Regions from separate parts of the Homo sapiens genome. Here region 1 is linked to region 2. A link means that fine-mapping ties the variant in region 2 to the plasma level of a protein whose gene starts in the linked region. Region 2 holds a variant in brackets. A gene starts in the other region. All regions are shown on their forward strands.

Evidence for each region. PIP is the chance, under the fine-mapping model, that this variant and not a neighbour inherited with it causes the effect. The UK Biobank Pharma Proteomics Project read protein levels with antibody pairs (Olink). The fine-mapping took linkage between variants from a reference panel, not from the people measured, so its PIPs are less certain.
Region 1: MRC1 starts here. The variant in region 2 is fine-mapped to the plasma level of the MRC1 protein (UK Biobank, PIP above 0.99).

Annotation. Positions count from the first base shown.
Region 1 is chr10:17,805,133-17,813,899 of GRCh38, forward strand. It overlaps MRC1 (mannose receptor C-type 1), which reads left to right and starts at 4,216. Exons shown (of 30, transcript NM_002438.4): 1 at 4,216-4,394. The coding sequence starts at 4,334.
Region 2 is chr22:29,357,014-29,365,013 of GRCh38, forward strand. It overlaps AP1B1 (adaptor related protein complex 1 subunit beta 1), which reads right to left. Exons shown (of 23, transcript NM_001127.4): 3 at 5,988-6,093; 4 at 2,811-2,946; 5 at 1,713-1,958. Among named protein-coding and RNA genes, the nearest start is that of AP1B1, 28 kb to the right of the region's middle. The variant C/T (reference allele first, on the strand shown) is at 4,088.

The DNA of each region.
Region 1 (8,767 bases), not on the chromosome of region 2:
CTTTTTGATTCTATTGCAAATGGAATTTTCTTAATTTTATTTTCAGATTGTTCATTACAAGTGTATCAAAATTCAACTGATTTTTGTGTTTTGATTTTGTGTCCTGCAACTTTGTTAAATTTGTTAGTGCTACAGTTTGTGTGTGTGGTGTGTATGTGTGTGTGTGTGGCGTGTGTATGTATGTGTGTGTGGTGTGTGTGTGTGGTGTGTATGTGTCTATTGTGTATGTGTATGTGGTATTTGTGTGTGGTGTGTGTGTGTGTGTGTGTGTGTAAGCTTTAGGACTTCCTACATTTAAAATCAGGCCATCTGTGTACAGAGATAATTTCACTTCTTCCTTTTTAATTTGGATGCTTTTATTTATTTTTTTCTTTCCTACATGCTCTTATTAGAACTTCCAGTACTAAGTTGAAGAGAAGTGATGAAAGCAAATAAAAGCACCAATCAGAACACACAGTCCTGACATTTGGAGGGCTAAATCCTTGTTGCCCGGCCTGGCCTCACCTAGCTGCACTGGGCGTGTGGGCTGCTTCCCCCTTCACAGCTGCCTGACACAGCCATAACCACAGGGAGAAGCTGAAATTCGCTGAAATGTACCAGCCTCTTTATCAAGCTCTCCCTTGGATGCTCCAAGTTTCTGACTAGACTAGTTCCCAAATACAGATGGTCCTTGACTTAGGATTGTTAGACATAATGATTTACCCACTTTATGATGATGTGAAATAGAAATGGTGCATTCAGTAGAAAATGTATTTCGAATACCCATACACCCATTCTGCTTCTCACTTTTAGTACCATATCCAATAAATTACGAGATACTCAACACTGTATTATAAAATAGGTTTTGTTAGATGATTTTGAAATAGAAGAGTTCCCTTATGACCCTCGCAGGGGGTGCGACAGGAATGAGGCTTGCTCCTTTGGTGCCCTGCTGCTCAAACCCCTAGGGGGGAGCATGCAGCATGCAGATGGGCAGGTGCAGAGGCTGTGGGGAGTGCTTTTGGGCTCCACCCCACGGCAGCATCTAGGACTCCTGAAGCCCAAGTGGGCGTGTGTTACAGTGTGCTCTTTCAGCTATACCATCTGCAGACAGCTTGTGTTAGTCAGCTCAATAGACCCTCTGCCTTATCACAAGGACAGGGAGGCAGTGTGACAGCCTGAGTTCTTGCCCAGTGTACTGGAAGAATCAGATCACATGTGGGCTGGAGGGTTGAGTGCAAGGTTTTATTGAGTGGTGTAGGTGGCTCTCAGCGAGATGGATGGGGAACTGGAAGTGGGGAGTGGAGTGGGAAGGTGGTCTTCCCCTGGAGCCAGGCTGCCTAACCCCCCAGACTATTCTCCAACCACTGCTGGCCAAACTCCCCTTGGTGTCCAGATGTCCTTCTTCTCTCTTTCTCTGCTGCGCCACCCCACTGCTCTCCACTGCTCTATTCCTTCACTCTTCTCAATGTTTAGCGCTTGTGTCTATGCCCATTAAGGTCTCAGGTTTTTATGGGCACAGGATGCGGGGTGTGGTGAATCATAGTGGTCTTGGAAATGTAACATTTGCGCATGAAAACAGGAGTGCCTGTTCCCACTTAGGTCCGTGGGCACAGGTCCGAGGGTGGAGCCCTCGCCAGGGATCCTGCCCTTCTCTACCTAGCACTTCTCTGCCTCCTGTCCCTATCAATTTTGCCCAGTTGGAAGCTAATGTAAGTGTTCTCAACACGTTTAAGGTAGGCTACGCTGAGCCGTGATGTTTGGTAGGTCAGGTGTATTAAGTGCATTTTTGACTTAGCATATTTCAACTCACATTGGGTTTAACAGGGCCTAATTTGATCATGAGTAGAGGAGCACCTGCAGTTACTTCAGTCAGTTCCTGTCCATTTGATGGCTGCTTAGATGGAGGGATGAATTCCTGGAGTTTCCCACACCACCATCTTCTGTGACATCCCTTCCCCAAGATTTGGATTTATTTTTTGCCCCAGTGGCCTCTTGTAGCCTGATAAATCTTTGTTTCAACGAGGTCAAGGTCATGGGGTAAATTCTTTGTGGGGTGGTTGGCTGCATTTTGTTTAAACTTCACAGATTTTAGTACTGATCCTAATTTTTAATTTTACTAATGTGATATACACACTTATGTAATTAAAAAACAAACCCTGGGCCAGGTATGGTGGCACACGTCTGTAATCCCAGCACTTTCAGAGGCCAAGGCGGGCGGATCACTTGAGGTCAGGGGTTTGAGACCAGCCTGGCCAACATGGTGAAACCCCGTCTATACTAAAAATGCAAAAAATAGCTGGGCATCATGGCACGCGCCTGTAATCCCAGCCACTTGGGAGGCTGAGGTAGGAGAATCGCTTGAACCCGGGAGGTGGAGGTTGCAGTGAGCCCAGATTGCACCACTGCACTCCAGCCTGGGCGACAGAGCAAGACTCTGTCTCAAAGAAACAAACCAACCCTGAATGTGATTATATACATAATTCAATTAAATGTATTTGCTTCTGAAATATATATAAATGTAAATTAGGCAGTCACTTTTGTATATGATTTATTTATATTTGAAAGCCACAAATGACCCATTTAAACTATTATTTTCATAAGCCAGTGAAACAATGTCTGAGAAACATTTTTGTTTTGTCTGTTCTGTTCTATAACCATCATTTTTTTTTTCAGTCATGTACAGCCTTAGTGACAAAGAAACTTTGGTCCTCTGTCCTACATTTTCACTATCTTTTTCCCTCCGGTCAGGATAATCTCAAATTTACATGTTAAAAACAATCAGTAAGAGAACTACATCACATTTCTAATAGGATGGAAACTTTTCAACTTTATCACAAAGACAACGAATGTGGAGGCTTTCCGTTTGAAGATAAAACTATTCATTTAAAAAATTTTAAAAATTACAATGTTTCCAGTAGCTTCTTTTTGAATTACTAACATATTCCACACTCTAGTAACGGTTTGGCCAGCTAATCGTTAGTTTCTGCTTTAAAATGTTCTAAATTCCTGTTCTACTTTTGAAAAATGACAACATAAATGTTTGGAGGGTTATTTTCTGCTTAATGAAAGATCTAGAAACATATTTTATTCTAAGAAAGAATTCCACTTGCCTTTAAATAAAGATATACCTTTTGACCAAACAATCAGATTTTCTTTTTCTTTTTTTTCTTTTCTTTTTTTTTTTTGAGATGGAGTTTCGCGTCTGTCGCCCAGGCTGGAGTGTAGTGGTGCGATCCTGACTCACTGTAACTTCCACTTCCCAGGTTCAAACGATTCTGTTGCCTCAGCCTCCTGAGTAGCTGGGCTTACAGGTGTGCATGATCACACCCGGCTAACTTTTGTATTTTTAGTAGAGACGGGTTTTTGCCATGTTGACCAGGCTGGTTTCAAACTCCTGACCTCGGGTGATCTGACTGCCTCGGCCTCCCAAACTGCTGGGATTGCAGGCGTGAGCCATTGTGCCTGGCCAGATTTTCTTTTTCTAGCAAGGGGACCCACTTAAACTTGAAGAGGACCGGGATGGTTGAGGCTGGGCAGCAAGGCTTTACTGCAAATCCTTTACCACTGTTTTTTCTGGCTTTCTAGAGAACGTTCTAGCAAAAGGTTTCTAGAACTTTCTCCTTCCTGGCCTGACTGACATTCCCTCTTAGGTGTAGCCTCCTTTTCACTTTTCTTCTGCCTGGAGGAAATGAAGCTCCACGGAACTTTCTGTTGAAACTTTCCAAGAAAAAAAAGAAAGGCTCTAAGCACTGAATGTGGAAACTGAAGGGGATGAGCTTCAACTCTGAAGTGTTTCCAGCGTAAAACTGTCCTTTCCAGGGCCCGTGTGGCTGTCACTTCAGAGTGGAGGTTGTCTGCTGAGGGACCCCTGACTCAGCTGCTTCCCAGGGGAAGCTCCGTCTTCCGGCACAGGTAATGGCCTGCAGCTTGATCTCCACCCAGCCCCATCTGAGCAGGCCGGGAGCTCCCAGGCTGTTTCACTTCTCTCCTTCCTGACTCCTCACCATCACCATCGCCCTCTCTCCTCCCCACCCCGCCACTCCTCTCCCACACGTGTCCCTTTCTCCCCTTCCTCTGCGTCTGCTCTTCTCAGAAGTTAGCTTACGAAGCAAAGTTGTTACTTTGAATTCCTGTTTTTCCAGCCACCCTCATGTGACAGGATGTCTCCTCAGTAGAGGCTTTCCCTAAATTCAGGAGCCCTTTAAAAGGGAGGGCTTCCTCTGTAGTTCTTTTCAGCTGGGCAGCTCTGGGAACTTGGATTAGGTGGAGAGGCAGTTGGGGGGCCTCGTTGTTTTGCGTCTTAGTTCCGCCCTCCTGTCCATCAGGAGAAGGAAAGGATAAACCCTGGGCCATGAGGCTACCCCTGCTCCTGGTTTTTGCCTCTGTCATTCCGGGTGCTGTTCTCCTACTGGGTAAGTCTGCTCTGAGGCAGGGGATCTCTGACCTGGGGGGCCGGAACCACACCTTCCTCTTCTGGGTTACTGTGAATGGGTTCCTTTCAACATCTTTGTGAGGAGGAAACGGGGTTCCCCTGCACCACGCAGTCCACGGCTAAGCCTGCTGCCTTCACCTGGCGGCCAGGCATGGGAGGCCTGGAGTTGGAGGAGGGAGGAGGATGCGTCTCAGGTCTCGGTTGCTGCCCTGCCGGGAACCCTACAGACCTTCAGTGTCCTCCTGACTTCTCTCATCGCTCGTTGTTCCTTCCCTGTTTTCTTCGTGCAGAAATTTCCTGCTCTGTGGTTTACTCTTTCTGGTTTTCAATTCACACTATTTCTGTCTCACCGCCAACAAACACCTTCTGAGTGTCTCTGGCTGGAAGGAGGGCAGCCCTGATGTCTCCCCGCGTCTTAGGTCCGAGGGTATCATCGCAGATCATCCCCCCAAAAGAGATTCTAAGCAATTTCCATACTCATTTTTTTTTCTGCCAGAATCATTCAGACACTTGATTGTTAGAAAGTTCATCCTTATCTGTATTCTAGACTATTCAAACTGCCGCATAAGCAGATCGATTCCTGTTTTTCTTCTTTTTCTGGAGATTAGAGATTACTCATTAGGAACAGCTCCAGAGTTGTTCAAATTCTCAAATACCTTTTCCAGTCTGTCTTTTCTATTTCTCTATACTCAGTTGCTTAAACTTCAGGATGGGAGTGCCTCGGGGGATTTTCATTCCTGGTTCTATTTGGAGATGATTTAGAAGAGATTTCAAATTTGATTTTTTGATTTCTGATCCCCCTTTAATTCTATGAAATCAACAAACACTTGCAGAGAATGGTTTGTGCCTACGATCTACTCTATGCACTGATGTGAAGGCGGGTGGGAAGTTTCCTAGGAAGAGAGTGTTTTAGTACCGCAAATGTTAAATCATAAGTATTGAGTGGTAGTGATTACAAAAACACAAGTGAAGGCGGTATGGTTTACATCCTGTCTCTCTCACTCACTAGCTTTGCGACCTTGGGCAGGCTACTTTATTTCTTTGTGCTTTAGTTTCCATGTCTATAAAATGGAAAGAATAATATTACCTGCCCCCATCAGTTCTTGTGATGATTCAATGAGTAACAATATGTGAAATGTTTAGAACAGAGTATGACCCATAGTAAGTGCCTTATAAGTGTTAGCTATTAAAATCAGTGGCAGAAAAGAAGTACATAAAAGGCCAAATAAAAAGGATAGATGAAATTAATTTTATTTTTATTTTTGAGACAGATTCTCATTTTGTTGCCCAGGCTGCAGTGCAGTGGCATGATCTTGGCTCACTGCAACCTCTACTTCCTGGGTTCGAGTGATTCTCCTGCCTCGGCCTCCCAAGTAGCTGGGATTACAGGCATGCACCACCATGCCCAGCTGATTTTTGTAGTTTTAGTAGAGACAACGTTTCACCATGTTGGCCAGGCTGGCCTCGAACTCCTGACCTCAAGTGATCTGCCCTCCTCAGCCTCCCAAAGTGCTGGGATTATAGGCATGAGCCACAGCGCCCAGCCCTGATATTATTAATGTATTTTATTTCACCCAGTAACTCGGAAATATTATCCCTCAACATTTAATCGATTTGGAATATTTTCCCATTCATTTCTTAAAACTAACTCTTCAAAATCTGGTGAGTATTGCATACTTATAGCATGTCTCAATTCACAGTAGTGTCATTTTAAGTGTACAATGGTTACATGAGGTGACTGGCTATCATACTGGGCAGCACAGACACAGTGCCTAATTTTCTTTAAACTGACTCAATAATGCTTTGAGCAATAGTGTTTCTCGGTTTGCTCAGGAGTGTTTCCCTCTTCCTGACAGCAGGATGCCCTCCTCTGACTAATGTCTTCCTCTTCATAGGCACAAATATTGGGGAGAGAAGGGGGATGCTGAAGATCTGTTTACTTGGAGAATAAACAAACAAAAAATTCAAGGGACCCCCCTTCCAGATTTTTTTTTCCTACGTGAAAGCCTGTAATTTGTGTTGTTTTGTTTTTTGAGACTGGTTTCACTCTGTCACCCAGGCTGGAGTGCAGTGGTGTGATCATGGCTCACTGCAGCCTTGACATCTGGGCTCATGCAATCCTCCCACCTTGGCCCACTCCCAACTCCCCAGTAGCTGGGACTTTGGGCTTGAGCCACTATGCCAGGCTAATTTTTAATTTTTTTTATTTTTTTTTATTTTTGTAGAGATGGGGTCTCACTATCTTGCTCAGGCCGATCTCAAACTTCTGGGCTCTGGTGATCCTCCCACTTTGGCCTCCCATAGTGCAGGATGATAGATGTGAGCCACTGCACCCAGCCTGTAACTTTTATTTTATCTTTTCTTGGCCCGAGAAGCATGTGATTGGAGGAATTTGTGTAAAGGCAGGGCACCTGCTTAGTTAGCAGCAGGTTAAACTATGCGAAGCCCCAACACCTCTCCCCTGGCTTCCTGCCCACTAGGAAAACCCATGGGAAGGTCTCCCTACTTGCCATCAGTTTATTTCTTTTCAATCCACACCCCTTCCTTCCACCTTCAGGAGAGCATCCCACAGCATTAGCACCATAAGTCTCTGTGGGCTGCTGCCAACGGATGGGCTGGTTCTCCCTGGAGGGGTCCAGGAGTCTAGAGGTTAACAGGGCTAGACGCTCACCTTTCCTACTGTTGTTCTTGCCGCACTATCTTTTTAGCACTCAGCAGCAAGGTTTCCAGCTCAGTTGGGTTATAATCATGGTAGATGCACCATGAGAGCCGGTGGGACACAGAGGTTAGACCACAGCAAAGAAGTTTAACTTGGAAATGGGAGGGTTTGGCTCACAGGTAGTGGTGTATTGGCAAACAACTACTGGTTCCAAGAAGGAAAAGAAAGGAAGCACTGATTTGACTTATGCTGTTTTGCTGTTTACTGATGTCCATGCTGTAAATATTCCCACCATGGTTGATTTCAAGCTACTGACTTGATGCCCCTGGGGGCAGAGTTGGGAAGAGATGCCAACAGTAGGCTTTTTTTTTTTTTTTTTTTTTTGAGATGGAGTCTCTCTCTGTCACCCAGCCTTGAGTGCAATGGTGTGATCTTGGCTCACTGCAACCTCTGCCTCGTGGGTTCAAGCAATTCTCCTGCCTCAGCCTCCCGAGTAGCTGGGATTACAGGCACCCGCCACCACACCCGGCTAATTTTTTCTATTTTTAGTAGAGATGGGGTTTCACCATGTTGGCCAGGCTGGTCTTGAACTCCTGACCTCGTGATCTGCCCACCTTAGCCTCCCAAAGTGCTGACATTACAGGCATGAGCCACCACACCTGGCCAACAATAGGCTCTTGCTAGCTGCTGCTATTGGTCCCAGGGCAATATGGAGCCTTTCTAGGCTCTGGGAAGGCGCTCAAACAGTGGGTCAGGTAGTATCATGAAAAGCCTAGAACATCTGCAAAAAATGATAATGAGAGACGTCTTGGTGGACAGAGAAGCCTTAGAATCATAGACCATTAAAGCAAGAACAAACTAGGAAATGATGCATTTTGACATCATCATTTTATAGATGAAGCACCAGGCTCAGGGAGGTAAAATGTCCAGAAGGTGACTGTTTAGCAGGTAGATGTAGATCCAGGACTTTGCTCAACGGCTTGTACTTTTCCACATCCCCTTAGATTTCTTGCTGCGCTGTTAGATCAAGTAAGTGCAAATTAGGTTATTCCTGTTGCCATTTGCGGGTCTCACATTTGGCTGGAAGGGATCCAACTGTGGTTCTGACATAGACATCACGCTAATGGTATAATCCTGATACTCCTCTATTTCATTTCCCTCGTTGAAATGCTAAGAAAGATAATTATTATCATGTGATTATCACAGTAGTGGTTTTTCACAAGCACTCTTGAAAACTTTGATTCCAATATAAATGTATGTCTTATGGTAAATATTGATTCTTCAGTGTATTTTTTCACAAAACTGAATTAAGTGGGAGAAAAATACAAGCACCTTTCTCCTTTTTAAATTTGTTCTCCATCTTTCTCAGTGTTTGTATCTAGAAGGCTGAGCTAACTTTTATGCTTTGGAACATAGGGCTAGATTTTATATATATAAATATATACATATATATATATACACACACACACACACACATTATATATATATATATATATTTTTTTTTTTTTTTGAGACAGGGTCTCACTCTGTCATCCAGGCTGGAGTGCAGTGGCATGATCATTGCTCACTGTAGCCTTGACTTCCCGGGGTCAAGTGATTCTCCCACCTCAGCCTCCTAAGTAGCTGGCACCACAGGTGCATGCCACCATGCCTGGCTAACTTTTGTGTTTTTTTGTAGAGATGGGGTTTTGCCA
Region 2 (8,000 bases):
GAAGCTCCAGGCCCTCAATCCATTTCCACTAGGAAGGTGTTTTTTTTTGTTTTTTGTTTTTTTTTTTTGAGATGGAGTTGTGCTCTGTCGCCCAGGTTGCAGTGCAGTGGTGTGATCTCAGCTCACTGCAACCTCCACCTCTTGGGTTCAAGTGATTCTCATGCCTCAGCCTCCCGAGTAGCTGGGACTGATTACAGGCATGCACCACCACACTCAGCTGATTTTTGTATTTTTAGTAGAGATGGGGTTTCGCCATGTTGGCCAGGCTAGTCTCAGACTCCTGACCTCAGGTGATCCTCCCACCTCAACCTCCCAAAGTGCTAGGATTATAGGCGTGAGCCACTGCACATAGCTTGTTTTTGTTGTTTTTGAGATTGAGTCTCACTGTGTTGCCCAGTCTGGAGTGTAGTGGTGCAATCTTGGCTTACTGCAACCTCTGCCTCCTGGGCTCAAGCAATCCTCCTGCCTCAGCCTCCCAGGTAGCTGAGATTACAGGCACGCACCACCATGCCCAGCTAATTTTTATATTTTTAGTAGAGACAGGGTTTCACTATGTTGGCCAGGCTGGTCTTGAATTCCTGACCTCAGGTGATCCACCCGCCTCAGCCTCCCAAATAGCTGGGATTACAGGCATGTAATCCTGTATGAGCCACTGCGCGCGGCCTCAGGCAGCTGTTTTTTTTTTTTTTTTTGAGACGGAGTCTAGCTCTGTCGCCAGGCTGGAGTACAGTGACGCAGTCTTAGCTCACTGCAACCTCCGACTTCCTGGGTACAAGTGATTCTCCTGCTTCAGCCTCCTGAGTAGCTGGGATTACAGGCACATGCCACCACACCCGGCTAATTTTTGTATTTTGAGTAGAGATGGGGTTTCACCATGTTGGCCAGGATGGTCTCAATCTCCTGACCTCGTAATCCACCCACCTCAGCCTCCCAAAGTGCTGGGATTACAGGCGTGAGCCACTGCACCCGGCCCAGGCAGCTGTTTTTAAGGGTGTTCTGCATTGTTTCCAACTTTTCTCTGTGAACCATCCAGTGCTCCAGTACCCATCCCTGTACTGGCCGCTCAGTACTGTGTATGGCAGTTGCTCAGTGTTTCTGCTCAGAGTGGGGAATGGCTGGGTTTGTGCATTCATTTTAAACAGGCCCTGCCAAACTGCCCTCCAAACTGCTGCCACCATTGTGGGTAAGGGGACTGTGGGGTTCCACATCCAGCTACATCCTGATGTCCTGTCTTCCAGGCTATGCTACTTCAAGGGTGACCCTCTACAACCCAACAAAGATGGGGGAAGGGAAAAGCACCACACATGCAGCATATTGGCTTGGTGAGAAGACAGCAACAATAACAGTGACTAGAAGGGGAAGGAGGGCACTAGTATTGATGGTGCACCGTTACCAGGCCATCCCAGGCACGTCACCTTCACAGCACTCCTGCCAGCCACGTAGAATGAGATCCATCTCACTGATGAAGAAAAGAGAGCCTAGGCAGCTTGCCCCAGGTTGCGCAGCTAGTCAGAGGGTGAGGAGAAGGGAATCTAGGTCTAGCTCCCTCCAGAGAGGGTGCCTGAACCACCAAAAGGCACAAGAACAACTGGCACCCCCAGCCAGGCTCCGACTTCTAGGTACTCAGGACTGCCTGGTGAAGAGTCAAGCCAATGTCTTCCCAAGCAACCCAGGAGGTGGTGGAGGTAGCACGGTGGGTGGCAGTGGCTTACCATGGGGTTAGAGTCGGAGATGAGGTCTTTAAGGGTGTCCAGGAAGCCCTGGTCCTCCACCAGCTGGGCGTTGATGTCGTGGAGCTTGGCCACGCACACAGCTGCTGTCTTGCGCACATATGGATCCTCGTCCTTCAGGCACTTCCGGAGTGGCTCGCACAGGTACTCTGTGATCTTGTCAACGCGGATGCAGCCCATGGTCCGCACTGCCAGGGCTCGGATGAGGGGGTTGGGGTCCTCACAGTCCTGGGGGGAACCAGCCATCGGCCAGGGCAGGGGTGGGATGAGCCATCTGTGGCTTCATATTCTCCCTGGCCTGCAGCTCTGAGCCCTGCTAGGCTGAGCGACATCAGATGGCTGCTGTGGATCTTCACCAACTACAGCCAACAACAGCAAAAGTAAATGCTATATAACCAGCACCCATGCCAGCTCTGCACACCATCTCCTCTGATCCTCACAGTAGAAATACAATACGGGTCCCATTTTATAGATGATGAAACTGAGGCTCTCAGAAAGGCTAGGAGCTCATCTGAAGCCACAGAGCAGAGCCGTGATTCAAACCCACATCCACCTAGCATCACAGCCCTCGGTCTTTCCACTGGGCCACAGAAGCCTCATTTCCCCATATCCGAGCACGGACAGGACTCAGGGGAGCTAAGGTTCTAAAGGTATACAAATTCAGAGGTACTGAACATTAGGAGAAAATAAAATTAAAATATAGGTGCACAGAGCTGACAATTTAATCTGAAGGACAGAAAATGGAGAAAGCAGCAGTCTGTAAGGGCAACAGAGAAGCTCTCGGGCACCTGCTGATTCCTGCCCTAGCAAAGCATGCAGGGCAGGGTCCAATCAGGGCAGTGAGGGGATCAACAGGCCTGGCAGGACCTCACACAGGATGAGTTACGCAGGGTCCTTAGCATCTGATTTTCTGGAGAGTGGGAGCCCTCTGCTGGAGGAAGAGGCCTGCAGGCTGGGCGGGCGCGGGCAGTCTGAAGGTCTGGACTCCATCCAGTGCCACAGGGCCCCGCCCCAAAGAGACTGAGGGGAGACAGAGCCTTAAGCACCCAATGTCCCCACGCCCACCAAGCGTCTGCTCACCTTCACAAAGGTGTTGACGGCCATAATGGCCATGTCAGGCTGACTCTTGGCGTAATTCATCAAGTAGAGGTATACTAGCTTCTTCAGCTCCAGGTTGTCCGTCTGCATGCAGTTGACCACATCGGGGAAGAGGGCACTGGAAGGTCAAAATGGTGTCAGCATGGGAAAGGCTGAACAAAGGAAGAGGAAGATTTTCAGGCTGCTAACTAGTGGGTGAGAGGACAGTGGGTAGGAGAGAAAGGAGAGACACACTGGACTTCCTGGTAAAAGGGAGGGTTTCAGGTCTGCTGTTAACAATCAACACCTATTGATAGAAAGGGAATCCCAAAGGGTAATTTTAAAAGCAGGAAAGTCCTTGATTCTTTTCATATAGTTCAAACATGAGTTCTGGAGCCCATCAAACCCACCACTGCCTCTTGCTAGCTATATGACATTGGAGAAATTCCTTTGTCACCTGCCCCCTCGCCCTGAGTCTCAATTTTCTAACTTCCAAGAAAGACGCAACAGAAACTCACTTCACAGGGCCTTTATGATAACTGAATGAGACAACATACTTAGGTATCTGGTCCTTGATATCTGGGAGATGCTGAGTAAATGAAAATGATCCTTTCTCCCTCTCTGATACTTAATGTGGCCCCTTACATTGGGCTGCTGGTTCTGGAGGGTCGCAGGGAAGCAGGATGGCTCATGCTGCTTTCTCCACAAGCTCTGGCACCCGGTAAGAACCAGCACAGCATGCATGGAGCACACACCATACACCAGGCTTGGTGCTAAGAGCTTTACATGCTTGATCTCATTTAACTGCCCTCAGAAGTCAGGGGATGATCCCCATTTCAGAGAACACTGAGGTTCATAAATGTCAAATAACCTGCCTGGAGGAATCAGGTCTGAGAACAAGGTCCGTGCTCATGACCACTGGGTGGAACCCTTCTCAACATGGTACCCGTGGTCCCAGAGTCACAGGCCTTCTTAAGATGTGAAATTTGGTTAGAGATCAATTTTCTATCTCTGAAATCATCATATCCCCTCTCAATTCTTATGTGTTTATAGGAAAGGACGTGTCAACATAGAGACTTAGGAGGTCAAAGTGAACTTCCTGATCCCCAACAGGCAGGAGTCCTGCCAAAGCCAAAATTTATGTGTCACCTTGGAAGATGATGCACCAGGAAGAATGGGGAGGAGGGAGGAGGAAAAACTGCTGATGAGGCCGACTCGCTCTTTGGGGCTTATCATATCAGCAAAGCCAGCTCTTTTGAGATGGAAGAACAAAGATGTTT[C/T]TCCTCTGTGAGGAGGTGACAGTGGTGTGCTGGGTGAAGGAGAGCAGCTTTGTCCTGGAAGGAATCTGACTTGGAAGGAGGCCCAGTTGTCCAGCAGGTACCTGTTTCCTTTCTGCTCTGGCTTCCAAAGGGCTCTCTGCAGAGCCCCTTCCCGGAGCTGCTGGCAGGAGGTCCTTTGCTTGGGGGGCGATCCATGGGGACGTCTGGAGCAGTGGGAGCCTATCTTGGGACCTGGATGGGAGCTGCTCCACCTCAGCACCCGGGTTATGAGGCACAGGGCTGGGCACCACGAGGGCATGGGTGAAAGTGGCCTGGATTTGGATTTCAGAAGAACTGGGCTTGAGTCCTAGTTCTGCCATAAACCATGTGACTCTTAGGCAGTCACTTTATGTTTTTATTTCTTTGGCAGTAAAACTGTCATTACCTACAATATGGGAATTGTAAGGAACTACTGAGAAAACAAATCTCAAAATGTTCTGTGCAGACTCTCAAATACTGTGCAAATATCAAGCTGTTTTAAAATCCAGTCTCTGCCTTTGAGATTTTACAATCTGGTGAGCAGGTAAACACAAGTACACATAACAAGAGAACAGTTTCCATTTAGTGCTGGGTGATGGGAACAGACAGCAAATGCTTTGAGTTTGAGGTAGTGGGCTGGGGTGATCAGGGAAGGAAACACAGGGAAGGCAGACCTTGAATGTTTTTTTTTTTTGAGATGGAGTCTTGCTCTGTTGCCCAGGCTGGAGTGCAGTGGCGTGATCTTGGCTCACTGCAGCCTCTGCCTCCCAGGTTCCAGCAATTCTCTGCCTCAGCCTCCCAAGTAGCTGGGATTACAGGTGCCCACCACCACGCTTGGCTAATTTTTGTATTTTTAGTAGAGACGGGGTTTCACCATGTTGGCCAGGCTGGTCTTGAACTCCTGACCTCGTGATCCACCCGCCTCGGCCTCCCAAAGTGCTAGGATTACAGGTGTGAGCCACCACATCCGGCCTCGAATGGGTTTTTAAAGATGGGAAGACAAGCTGGGTCACTGGGCGCTCCCACAGGGGAAGCATGAGCCAAGGTGCGGCAGCCGCTCTACACACAACCGGCTTTAGCCATCAGGTGCGACAGAGGCTGCACACCGGTGACAAATTAGAGAAATCCAATCTGCACGTGTGTTTTACTTGCACCACACAGTGTTTGTTTAATATCATCTGGCCACTTAAGACAGGGAGATTTAAAATGAAAAATCCAGATTTCCCATTCTTCTTTTTTTTTTTTTGAGACTGAGTCTCGCTCTGTCACCTGGGCTGGACTGCAGTGGCACAATCTCAGCTGAATGCACCCTGTGTCTCCCAGGTTCAAGCAATTCTCCTGCCTCAGCCTCCCGAGTAGCTGAGACTACAGGCATGCGCCACCATGCCCGGCTACTTTTTGTATTTTTAGTAGAGACAGGATATCACCATATTGGCCAGGCTGGTGTCGAACTCCTGACCTCGAGATCCGCCCGCCTGGGCCTCCCCAAGTGCTAGGATTACAGGCGTGAGCCACCGCGCCTGGCCCAGATTTCCCATTCTTTTAAAAACCAGAAGACCTGGCCACACTGGGTCCTCTTCCCCAGCCAGTACTGATCCTCTGGAGTTTCTGAGAGGGTTCATGCCACACCCACTCCATTGCCTGCTGCCTTTCCCACCTACTCCAGTTAACTCACTCCATAACCACCTGACCTGTCAGTGTCTGGGCTCATGATTCCTGTGTAAACAAAACCTTCTATTGGGAAGAAAGTTTTATGAAGGGAGCTGTATGAGGGGAGACATGGGTCCCTAGACACCCTAAAGGAGAGACTGAAGTGGACCCAAGCTATAAACCCTCCCCTGTCAGCCAGCTTCTAGCTGCCACCAGGCCTACTCCTGCACACCTGACATCTTTGCCCACGGTCATCGATGCAATCACTTTCTTCACTGCCTCCTTCTTCTTCTCCTTCTTGTCACTGTTGAGCTCTGCCTTCAGCTCGAAGATCTCCCCTAAGGAAAGGAGGCAAGCATGAGTGATCCCTCCCTACCCTGGCAGGGGACAATTCCCAGTATCTAACTTCCAAAAGAACCGGAGGGAGGCACGTAAGACATCCTATGCTGTTGGCTGAGGGAAGCTTCAGGCGCCTGGCCTCAGGTGGGCCAGGCAACAGTGAGGGATGACTGTTAGGACAGGAATTAACAAGATGGAAACTTGTAGGCCGGGTGCAGTCGCTCATACCTGTAATCCCAGCACTTTAAAATGCTGAGGATTGGCCAGCACAGTGGCTCATGCCTGTAATCCCAGCACTTTGGGAGTCCGAGGCAGGCGGATCACGAGGTCAGAAGATCAAGACCATCCTGGCCAACATAGTGAAACCTTGTCTCTATTAAAATACAAAAAATTAGCCGGGCATAGTGGCGCGTGCCTGTAATCCCAGCTACTCGGGAGGCTGAGGCAGGGGAATTGCTTGAATCCGGGAGGTGGAGGTTGCAGTGAGGCAAGATGGCGCCACTGCACTCCAGCCTGGCGACAGGGCCAAGACTCCATCTCAAAAAAAAAAAAAGAGGCTGAGGATTACTTGAGCTCAGGAGTTTGAGATCAGCCTGGGTAACATAGTGAGACCTCGTTTCTACAAAATAATTTTTTTTAATTAGCCGGGTGTGGTGGCATGTGCCTGCCGTGCCAGCTACTCTGGAGGCTGAGGCTGAAGAATCGTTTGAGCCCAGAGATCGAGGTTGCCGTGAGCCATGACACCACTACACTCCAGCCTGGGGGACACAAAGTGAGATCCTGTCTCCAAAAAAAAAAAGTTTAGAGGCCACTCTGGATTGAAGCAACAGGAACCATGGAAGCTACAAAGGTTCTGAGGAAGACAAAAGCATCAAAAACATGATGGCAGGCTCTGCTCAGCCAGGGAGCTAAAACCCCAGTGGAAGGCAAAGCTGTCCTCAGCTACCCTCACTCAACAAAAGACCCTTAAAAGGCTCAGTGCAATAGAACCTGAGTACTTAAGGCTTGCGGGGTGAGAGCAGGATTTGTGGATTCCCACATGAAGGCCTTTCCTGTTTTCCTCAAACCTCTAATTAAAACAGCTTGTTCAGGGTTTCACTTCCTGAGACACAAGTGGTTGGTTGCTCAGCTCTGAAAACAGGAATTCAGCTGCTCCATGAGAGCTCAAGCATGAAATCAATTGTTCTGAAGAACTTCATGACATGAAAAAAACAAATGAGGAAGCAGGGTTGTCTGGCCCTGCCATGGACAGATAGTCAGGACCCTGATAACAGGTTAGGAGGGCAGATGTCATTTCCTGACCCCTTCTCTTTTATTTTTTATTTTTTTGAGACAGAGTCTTGCTCTGTCACCCATGCTGGAGTGCAGTGGCCCCATCTCAGCTCACTGCAACTTCTGCCTCCTGGGTTCCAGCAATTCTCCTGCCTCAGCATACCGGGTAGCTGGGACTACAGGCGTGCGCCATCACACCCAGCTAATTTTTGTATTTTTAGTACAGACGGGGTTTCACCATGTTGGTCAGGCTGGTCTTGAACTGATCTCGTGATCCGCCCGCCTTGGTCTCCCAAAGCACTGGGATTACAGGCATGAGCCACCACGCCCGGCCATTTTTTTTTTTTGAGACATAGTCTCACTCTGTCACCCAGGCTGGAGTGCAGCGGTGCGATCTCGGCTCACCGCAACTTCCGCCTCCCGGGTTCAAGCAATTCTGCTGCCTCAGCCTCCCAAATAGCTGGAACTATAGGCGGACACCATCAAACCCTCCTAATTTTTGTATTTTTAGTAGAGACGGGGTTTCACCATGTTGGCCCGGCTGGTCTCAAACTCCTGACCTCAGGTGATCCACCCGCCTCAGCCTCCCAAAGTGTTGAGACTACAGGCCTGAGCCACCATGCCCGGCCCCTCT